Linked DNA regions of Homo sapiens: regions 2 and 3 are each reported to be linked to region 1. The links are microRNA targets in miRTarBase. Many come from high-throughput screens and were not tested one by one. Region 1 holds a microRNA gene; each other region holds the end of a gene's coding sequence.

Region 1 (3,153 bases):
TTTTTTTTTAAACTGGAAACGAACAAAAGCATAAAGGTTGCTAAATTGTTCCAGGGTTCATAACAATTACCACAACTTCCCTGAAAGTATAGATAGACCCATTTACAAAAATGCTCAATGTTACATTTGAAGTAGGAGAAACATCTTGCAATATATAAAGCCACAGTGAGTAAAATGCCTGTGACCAAAAGTAGCTATGATTGAGTCAACCAGTATTTATTTGTTGTTGTTGTTGTTGTTGTTTTGAGACAGAGTCTCCAGAGTCTCCCTCTGACACCCAGGTTGGAGTGCAGTGGCATAATCTCAGCTCACTGCAACCTTTGCCTCCTGGGTTCAAGAGATCCTCCCACCTCAGCCTCTCAAGTAGCTGGGATTACAAGCATGCGCCACCACACCCAGCTAATTTTTGTATTTTTAGTAGAGATGGGGTTTTGCCATGTTGGCCAGACTGGTCTCGAACTCCTGACCTCAACAGATCCTCCTGCTTTGGCCTCCCAAAGTGCTGGGATTACAGGCGTGACGCCTGGCCCAGCATTTACTGAGATACTGCTGTGTGTTAGATACTGTTTTGGGCATTGGAGCTACAACAGCAAACAAAACAGGCCACGTCCCTGCCCTCGTGGAGCTGGCATTCTGACTATAAACAAGTGAACAGATAAAAAGATGATTTCTGCTTGTGATAAATGCTCCCACTTTGCCACACTGACCAAATCACCTTGCTCTGATTCAGCACGTCAGAGCAGCTGAGAGGGACCTGTGAGGCCTCCTCATCTAGTCATTCTCAAGGTTAATCTTAGCAGCAGAACCTGTTGTTTAAAGGACATCTTCGGATGGGCACGGTGGCTCAGGCCTATAATCCCAGCACTCTGGGAGGCCAAGGAGGGTGGATCATCTGAGGTTGGAAGTTCAAGACCAGCCTGGCCATGGTGAAACCCCGTCTCTACTAAAAATACAAAAAATTAGCCGGGTGTGGTGGCGCACGCCTGTAATCCCAGCTACTCGGGAGGCTGAGGCAGGAGAATCACTTGAACCTGGGAGGCGGAGGTTGCAGTGAGCCGAGATCGTGCCATTGCGCTCCAGCCTGGGCAACAAGAGTGAAACTCCGTCTCAAAAAAAATAAATAAATAAAATAAAGGGCATCTTCTGTGGTGGCGGGGGTTCTGAGGACAGTAAGCTAGGGAGTAAGCCGGACCCAGAGCCTTGGCCGGCAGCAGAAACACAAAAACCCACAAAGGGCCAGTGCTGCGGGGAATGTAAGCCTCTCGCACTGTGCCCCTCACATGGGACACAGGATGTTGCCAGGCTTTCCATGAAAGGGGTTCTGTGGTGTGGTGGTCACAGCGCGGATGCTTGCTATTCTCCATATTTGCAATTATGCACCCCCACATGCACCCCCCGCCCCCCACACACAGCCACTTATGAAGAGGTATCATTGGCATCTTTGTCTTCTATCCCTCGGCCAGAGCTGATTGGTCCAGGGGAATAAATCAGACCTAGGCTAGACCAATGGGCGTCCTCCACTGGGTCTTGGGGATTGGCATGCTGGGAGACCAGGCCAGTCAGTAGTCAGGGAGGAAGGCGGATACCTGCAAGTGGCTGTTATTAGCAGGCGTCTAGAGGGCAGGGCCACAGACTGCCCCTGCTGACCTTTGCAAGCCCTTTGCTACCTATCCTGAGACCTTCCCCCTGGTCTCTGTGAAATGCCCTTTTGTAACTTTAAGTGAGCTTCCCTTTCCTGGAGGGTTGAAGTGAGTTTCTGCTCCTCACAATGCAGTAGCAATTACACGGTCAAATCAGTTGGGAAGGCTGGCTGCAGTGGCTCACACCTGTAAGTTTGGGAGGCTGAGGCGAGGGGATTGCTTGCATCTGGGATTTCAAGACCAGCCTGGGCAACATAGTGAGGCCTTGTCTCTATAAAAAATAAAATAAAAAATTAGCCAGGCATGGTGGTGCATGCCTGTAGTCCCAGCTCCTTGGGAGGCTGAGGCTGGAGGATCGCTTGAGCCTAGAAGGTCAAGGCTATGCTGAGCCATGATTGCAACCACTACACTCAGCCTAAATAACAGAGTGAGACCCTGTTTCAAAAAAAAAAAGTCAGTTGGGAAACTGGGTCATTAAAGCCACACAAATTTGTTTACTGCAGGACTTTTCGGAGCCTTTGACATGCTAATACATACAGTGACTTTCCAAGTGGGACCAAGGTATGTGGTATTTCCCAAACTCATGGAATGCCTCACCTAGCTGGTGTTCACAGAACACCTTTTGGGCAATGCTAATCTGCCTCCCCTCCCCTCACTGTACAAGTGACGGAATGAAGGCACAGAGCGGGAGAGTGAGTTACCCAAGGTCACACAGCTGCTGAATTGCAGAGAAAGTCCTGGCACCTGAGGCCTCCTAGTGTTCTTCCCATTACATCCCAGTTGTCATAAGACTTCCTTGGATGGATGATGTATGTGCTGAGATTCTTGGACCGAGGTGGTGGTGGTCCAGTGTAGACGCCAGGAAAAGGGTGAGGTCGAGAATTGAAGGTCAGGCCTTGGTGAGAGAAACCCCTGTCTCCTTTAATCCTGGATGGTAGCTGTGGCTTCAGCGGGGACTAAGAGCCAACAGACGGCTTGGGGCTGGCCCCAGGCTGCCCTGACCGCCTTTACAGCATGCCCAGGAGGACGGCTCCAGCCAACCCAGCCTCCCCTTCTTCCTCAGGCCACGGGCAGGCTGAACAAGAGAAAAACCTTTTCTGCCCATGGCAGGGCCCGCCCAGGCAGCCAGCGCCGGGATGACGCGAGCTGTAAATCACCCCGTGGACCACAGACCCAGTGCCATCCCCACGGGTTTCCTTTCCGCTTCTTAATCCTCCTCCTCAGACTCGGTAACACAAAGCAGATTCCTGCTGGGGCCAGCCATGCACAGTGGGCTTGGAGAATGTGAGCCTGGGATTTACCACATCAAGATGCTCCCGCCTCTCACTTTTCCTTTTCTCCCTCCTGAGCCACTATTAGCTGGAGAGCACTCCCTCCCTCTGGCCCGGCTCCCTCGCCCTCCTTGGACCCCACTTCAGCCTTGCCCCAGACTTGCGTCTTGGCTGGCTGCCCCGGCCCACGGGGCTCACCAGGGCCTGTGGTTAGCAGGCCCTCCACGTCGTGGTTTGGCTCC
Region 2 (3,000 bases), not on the chromosome of region 1:
CTATTCTTGCGCTTGGTGGATAGTAGGTAAAGGGGAGTGAGGAAGTCCAAGAAGTCTTCCCTCCCCAGTAATGACTCAGTTGTGAGGGTCTGATGGGAATTGAGTGTGATGAGCTGGGCTCTGGTCTAAGCTGGTTTATTTGGAAAAAGTTCTTTATAGATGTGAGAGTGGATAGCCGCCTGGCAGTACTGCCCTTAAAACAGGCTGTTTCTTCCCTAATGGCCTTTCTCCTCTGCTTCCAGGCCTTCCTAGAACGGTACCTCAGTGCGGGCCCCACCCTGCAATATGACAAGGACCGCTGGCTCTCTACACAGTGGAGGCTTGTCAGTGATGAGGCTGTGACTAATGGATTACGGGATGGAATTGTGTTCGTCCTTAAGTGCTTGGACTTCAGCCTCGTAGTCAATGTGAAGAAAATTCCATTCATCATACTCTCTGAAGAGTTCATAGACCCCAAATCTCACAAATTTGTCCTTCGCTTACAGTCTGAGACATCCGTTTAAAAGTTCTATATTTGTGGCTTTATTAAAAAAAAAAGAAAAATATATAGAGAGATATATATCTATGCCAGAGGGGTGTCTTTTTTAAAAATTCTTCTTCATTGCTGACTGAAACTGGCAGATGATTGACCAGTATCCTTTGACCATCTGCACTTTATTTGGAAGGAAGCAGGGGCTGTCCACCCTGAAAAAGAGTGACTGATGACATCTGACTTTTGTCGATGGGACTTCTCAAGAAGCCATTCCTTGGAGCTTCTGTTACAGCTGTAAACCAAAGTGGAGCTGGTGCTTCTTGGGAGCCTCGCCTTACAACTAATTCCTGCCTTTCGTCCAGTACCAAGTCCCCCGTTGCTTCTGGTCAGCCCACTTGTAGACTTCCAGGGGACACATCTTTATTCTGTTTCAGGAAACCAGTCACGACACGTCCACATATGTATTTGTGTATGTTAATGTCCAGTATCACATCACCCATGAAAGTCGTGGGCAGTTCAGGAGATACCTGCCTTCATCTTTGTTCTTTGTTGCCTTAGGTTCTTCAGAGAAAGATCACAACAAAAAATGTACACTGTCGTTTACAGCTATTAAGTGATTTGATTTTGTTTTTTTCCCAAAGAGAAAACCTACCTGCCCTGTTTCTGATCCCACCCCTCTGCTGGCTTGAAGCAGGTAACCCTTTCCCAGCCCTGCAGCTGCCCACCTGGCCTCCATGCCATCCTGCCCCCACCTGGCTGGCAGCCCTGGCTCTCCATGTGTGCCCTCCGGCTCTGTGTGAAGCCTCAAGTCAGTCCCAGCATTGTTTCCATAGGGAAGTGTGGGGTGCCCAGCAGGTAAAGCACAGGGAGAGAGGGCAGTGGGAATGCCACCTTTAGGCTGCAGCAGGAGCCCCACACTGCCCAGTTTTCCTCCCCACTGTTCTACACCAACCAGGGGAGACTAACACTGTGACTCTGGGATTGGCAGGTGCAACTTGGAGCCACTTAATTTCCTGGGGACGTAAGTTCTTCCCAAGCTTAGAGCAAGCTGCCCTGCCAAAGGAGACCAAACCATGCCAACCACGCTGGCAACTGCTGCTGTCCAGTCCCTGTGTTTTCTGACCACCGTCACTGTGCAACTCATCGCCTCTGCCACTTAGGACCAGGAAAGAGGCTGGTTTTGCTCCCACTCTTAGTTGCTGATAAAGTGGGGAGAAGGAAAATGGACACTCTACAGAGTTTGGGGAAGGGAGAGTAGGGAGCCCATCTTGTCCAGAAAGATTCATCTGTGGTCTGTCTGTTAAACACAGCTGATTTCAGTGGGCTTTCCCCTGGCCCTGGGGGAGCAGACACTGACTGGGTTGTGGGCAGAGGAGCCATCCTGGCGGAGCCCTGCTGCAGGGGAGCTCCTTCAGGAGCCCCATCCGGACCTCTTGCACTGGGCTGCCTTTGCCTCCATTTGCCTTCCTGTATCTGCAACAAACCTTTTAAAAGTGTTCACTCTTGCTTTTTCCAGTATTTCGGTAATCAGCCATCTTGCTGTAGTACAGGATGACATTGTCGAATGCTCTTTGTATGTGTGCACACCCCCTTACTCCCTTACTGCTTCATACACTCCACAAGTGGTACAGTATTTTGTGTCATTGTAAAAATCAAAATTGGCTTTGGATCTTTGTAATACACCTGTACCTGAAAAAGTAAACAACATTCTTCAATTACTAGCCTTCAGCTTGAAAAGACATGCTGGAGAAGAAGGAAGGGGGAACCCATAGGTGTGGCGTGGAGCCAAGATGTACTATTCAACTATGTGTTTCTGTTTATAAAAAACACATACCATGGAACCATGGTGCTTTTGTTCTTAGTTTTTGCCGTTAGATCCCTTCAAACTGGAAGTTCCTTACAATATCTTTCTCAGGAAATATTTTGGGAAATGGGGTAAGAGATGGCAAGTGTGAGACGGGCTGTGTCAGAGGTTGCTACGTCATGGATACAGTGCAGTTCCAAGTGCCATAAGTGTATGTACATATAGTTAATAATGACACTGTTCATCACCATTCTAAAATACTGTTCTTCCAACCCTATCTTCAATGACCAGTCCAGAAGGGGTTAAGCTGGATTCATTTGCTCTGGCATGTGCATTCCCAGCAGGGTGAAGAAAGGTTTAAATTAAAGAATTTATTTTCTCTCTCCCCCTTCCTCTTTCTCCCAGTCTTTGCATAGGAGAATGTTAGACATTCAGAAATTACTGTTTCTGTTTTAAATTGAGTATTGATTTTTTTATATTGACTTTGTATTGAGTTCTTTTTGAAAGAATAACAAAATAAAATGCAGGATCTTTGTAAAGCCTTTGCACTTTCAACCTCTTTATAGCTTGAGTTACTTTTGCAGTGGGAACAATGTAAATGACATTTAAAAGATTTAAGGTTTCAGAAAGCTGCATCCCACAATTGAACACAATGCATTTTTATTTCAATTCTTGGAACTGGTAGGCTATTCTTTTTAAAAGGGGGTAAACTTCGCCCTAAGGC
Region 3 (3,000 bases), not on the chromosome of region 1:
TATTATAGTGTGACTTGAATGTTGACACTGATGTATATAAATAATGATTGTGCTACCAGCCTTTGGTTAAGACCTAAAAATAATAAGTACGCTTTCAGTTTTTAAGTATAAGGTTTTTAATTAAAAATACTTCTATCTTTTGTTTAGGTTATGCCAAGGTCTAGAGTGGATGACCTCCCGGATTGGTGTGAGATAACTTTTTTGCTTGAAAGAGACTGCTCTATTTATTCTGTGACATGAACATTTTTTCCTAGTACCTTTGGCTGCTAAGGCAGCAGCATGTTTAATTTATAACAACACAAACCTCTGAGAGCAACACTTGAATCAAGTGCAGCTGAACTGGAACATAAAAGATTTTTTCTTAACTTTTTTTTTTTAACACACTAATCTTCAGTTGGATGAATGTAATGTATAACTATGTTTTCAGCAACAATTCTTCTGTTTATTCTAATTAATCAGTGACTGCCTTGTAAGAAATGTTTGTCATATGCGTGATGTCTTCTGAAATATTCTTATAACCTTAATGACCAATTGCTTTCAATTCTTGACCAGCACTCCCTCCCAACCAGAGAATTACTGGTTTGATAGAGTAGTCTTGGAAACCATCAGGTACTGCCTGCAGACTTCTCCAGCACTAAATATATTTGTTCCCTCTATAAACCATTCATCTTTCGGACAGAACTTACTGTAAAGAAAGAAATCTGCCTAGAGGATATATGTAAGGAAGATTCCACATCATGAGTACTTGCCTTTTAACTTTCCCCCACATTACTGTTGAGTCATGGAATAATGTTTAAGTTGTTATTTGCATGGAAATTAAGTAGGCTGTTTATTTATCTAAAGGAATCAAGTCCACTCTTCTGCCTGCAACATTTGTTCAAAAACTAACCAAGGTAAAATATTTATTTGAAAGCCCAACTTTGATGTTAAATATTCTTGAATAAATCTGTTATTTTAAGAATATCACATTATTCAATGCATATAAAACTATCAGAAGTTAGTAAATCATACCAGCACTAAAAATAAGACAATTGGAATATATTTTAGCATCAGTTTACAAACAACTTTATTATCAACAGAAATTTTAGCTCTTTTCTTTGCAAGATATATCACAGCTGCTTTGGGCAGTAGCTGAAGCCGAAGTATGAACAGTCCATTTTGTTTCTTAAAATTTGAAGTCGTGTCTGTCATAGCATTTTTACTACCAGCAGTATGTTACTTAAAAAACTACATGGCTTTCCTTGAATTTATTTGACGGTATTATGTAATAGACTTGAAACAATTGCCATCTTTGTAGTTATGCCTTGGGTTCTAAAATGTTATAGGAAACTGCTGAATTGAATCCTAGCTTTTAGAATATTAATAGGAGACTCAAAGTTAATATTCTTAACAACTTAAAATTAAAAAAAGTCATAATCTATCAAAAGTTTATTTATTGGATGGCATTAAAACATTTTTGAGGCAGTTGTCTAATATGAACAATAATCTAAACAATATATTCCTTAAATTAAGAGGAAAGACAAGTGTCGTATTTCGATCCTGTTTATTCAAATGTGTGATTTTGCTGAAATGAAAGGGATAAAATGAATACTTAGAGAATAATACTTCATTTTTGCAGTACTTTTTAATTTTGATAAAAAAGATACAAAGTTCATAATATCAAAATATGTGTTCAAAATTGGTATTTTAATTTTAATATTTTTGTAAGTTGATTTAAATTTTGCTCTTTTTTCAGGTGTGCTTGGTTTATTATATTTAGTCAAGTTAATTTAGTCGAATGTGGTAACATTTTTCTGATTTATCTTTAGTTGGAGCACACCCTTGAACTGAACAGTGGCCAAAGGAAAGCTTTCTGGGCTTTGGAAAGTAGTTGTTTAACTTTGTTTTAAGCCGTTTTCTTAGTGATTCTGTATCAAGTAGAGGATAAGTGTAGTTTAACTTAGTTTTTAATATAACCCATAATCAAGAACATGAGCGAAAAGCAGACATAAATCGATATGGATGGTTTGTGGTGTGTGTGGGATGTGGGGGAATTAAGAAAATGCCATTTACCTAAGCACAGTTTGCCTGAATTTCTGCTTGGTTGTGTTGTTTACCGTAAGTACTGAGGGTAGTTTCCCTAAGTCTGTCCTGAGAAAAAGCATACTTAGTACTCCTGTATTTGTTCTTATGAAATGACTATCTGCCTTCTTGTATCTAGTAAGATTGGCTGGCTCAATTTTCTTCTGTCAAATTATATGGTTATTTTTTATATTACCACATCAGCATTATATTAAAAGTGTTTTTAATAGTTGATTGTATTTTGCCAACTACTAGTATAGACTCAAATTTGCTATTTAATTTTTAAAATACAATTTATTTTGTAAATCCTTTAAAAAATATTTGGTTAGTTTTGGATTAGAAATGATTTATGTTAGCCATGTGTTGAAGATGAAATTGGCATCAGTGTAGACGGTGCTGATTGGGAAAAGTTCATGATTAGGAAATTCATGTAAGACTTTTTAAGAGTATTTTTTAGGTTTTCACTCAATCTTTCCTGTCACAGTAACGTGAAAACTGATTATTCTTTACTCCAAGAGAATGTTTTAACCCAAGCAAGTATCTAATACTAGAGCATTGGTTCTGACATTCATTGTAAATCAGTGAACTGTAAGATACTGTCTAAAAAATGTACATTTGTAATTAGTGCCTTTATTCATATTTTGAAATAAGTTCTTAGTTTTATATTATACCTGTTCTTTAGAAGTCATGTTAGCAGCTAATTATTTCAGTGATGAAATAATTTGTGTTTTATATCCCCCTTCACCTCCATGTATTGGTTAGCACAGTTTATAGTAAGTGAAAAGCAAGGGACCCACCTACATTACCTTCAGGAGACTGTTCTACCTTTTAATTTGAAAACAAGGAAATTAAATTTTAACAGAAATCTTTTAAGTATGTTATAACCAAAGTGTTCAATTATCCTTGCAAGTTCAAATACAGCATTTTTCTTAATTTTGA

Evidence for each region. Region 1 holds the annotated microRNA hsa-miR-6071 (UUCUGCUGCCGGCCAAGGC, at 1,198-1,216, opposite strand). A microRNA usually pairs through its seed, bases 2 to 8, with sites in the 3' UTR of a target mRNA and lowers its output. Matches are read on the target gene's strand: a 7mer-m8 pairs with bases 2 to 8, a 7mer-A1 pairs with bases 2 to 7 and ends in A, and an 8mer does both.
Region 2: miRTarBase lists VANGL1 as a target of hsa-miR-6071. The part of its 3' UTR that is shown has no 7-base or 8-base seed match.
Region 3: miRTarBase lists ARL5B as a target of hsa-miR-6071. The part of its 3' UTR that is shown has no 7-base or 8-base seed match.

Annotation. Positions count from the first base shown.
Region 1 is chr2:85,782,460-85,785,612 of GRCh38, forward strand. MIR6071 (microRNA 6071) reads right to left here and starts at 1,218; the gene lies at 1,141-1,218. The region is part of intron 2 of ATOH8 (atonal bHLH transcription factor 8); the gene reads left to right.
Region 2 is chr1:115,690,877-115,693,876 of GRCh38, forward strand. VANGL1 (VANGL planar cell polarity protein 1) reads left to right here. Exons shown (of 8, transcript NM_138959.3): 8 at 243-3,000. The coding sequence ends at 503. Among named protein-coding and RNA genes, the nearest start is that of VANGL1, 50 kb to the left of the region's middle.
Region 3 is chr10:18,675,021-18,678,020 of GRCh38, forward strand. ARL5B (ARF like GTPase 5B) reads left to right here. Exons shown (of 6, transcript NM_178815.5): 6 at 148-3,000. The coding sequence ends at 196. Among named protein-coding and RNA genes, the nearest start is that of ARL5B, 17 kb to the left of the region's middle.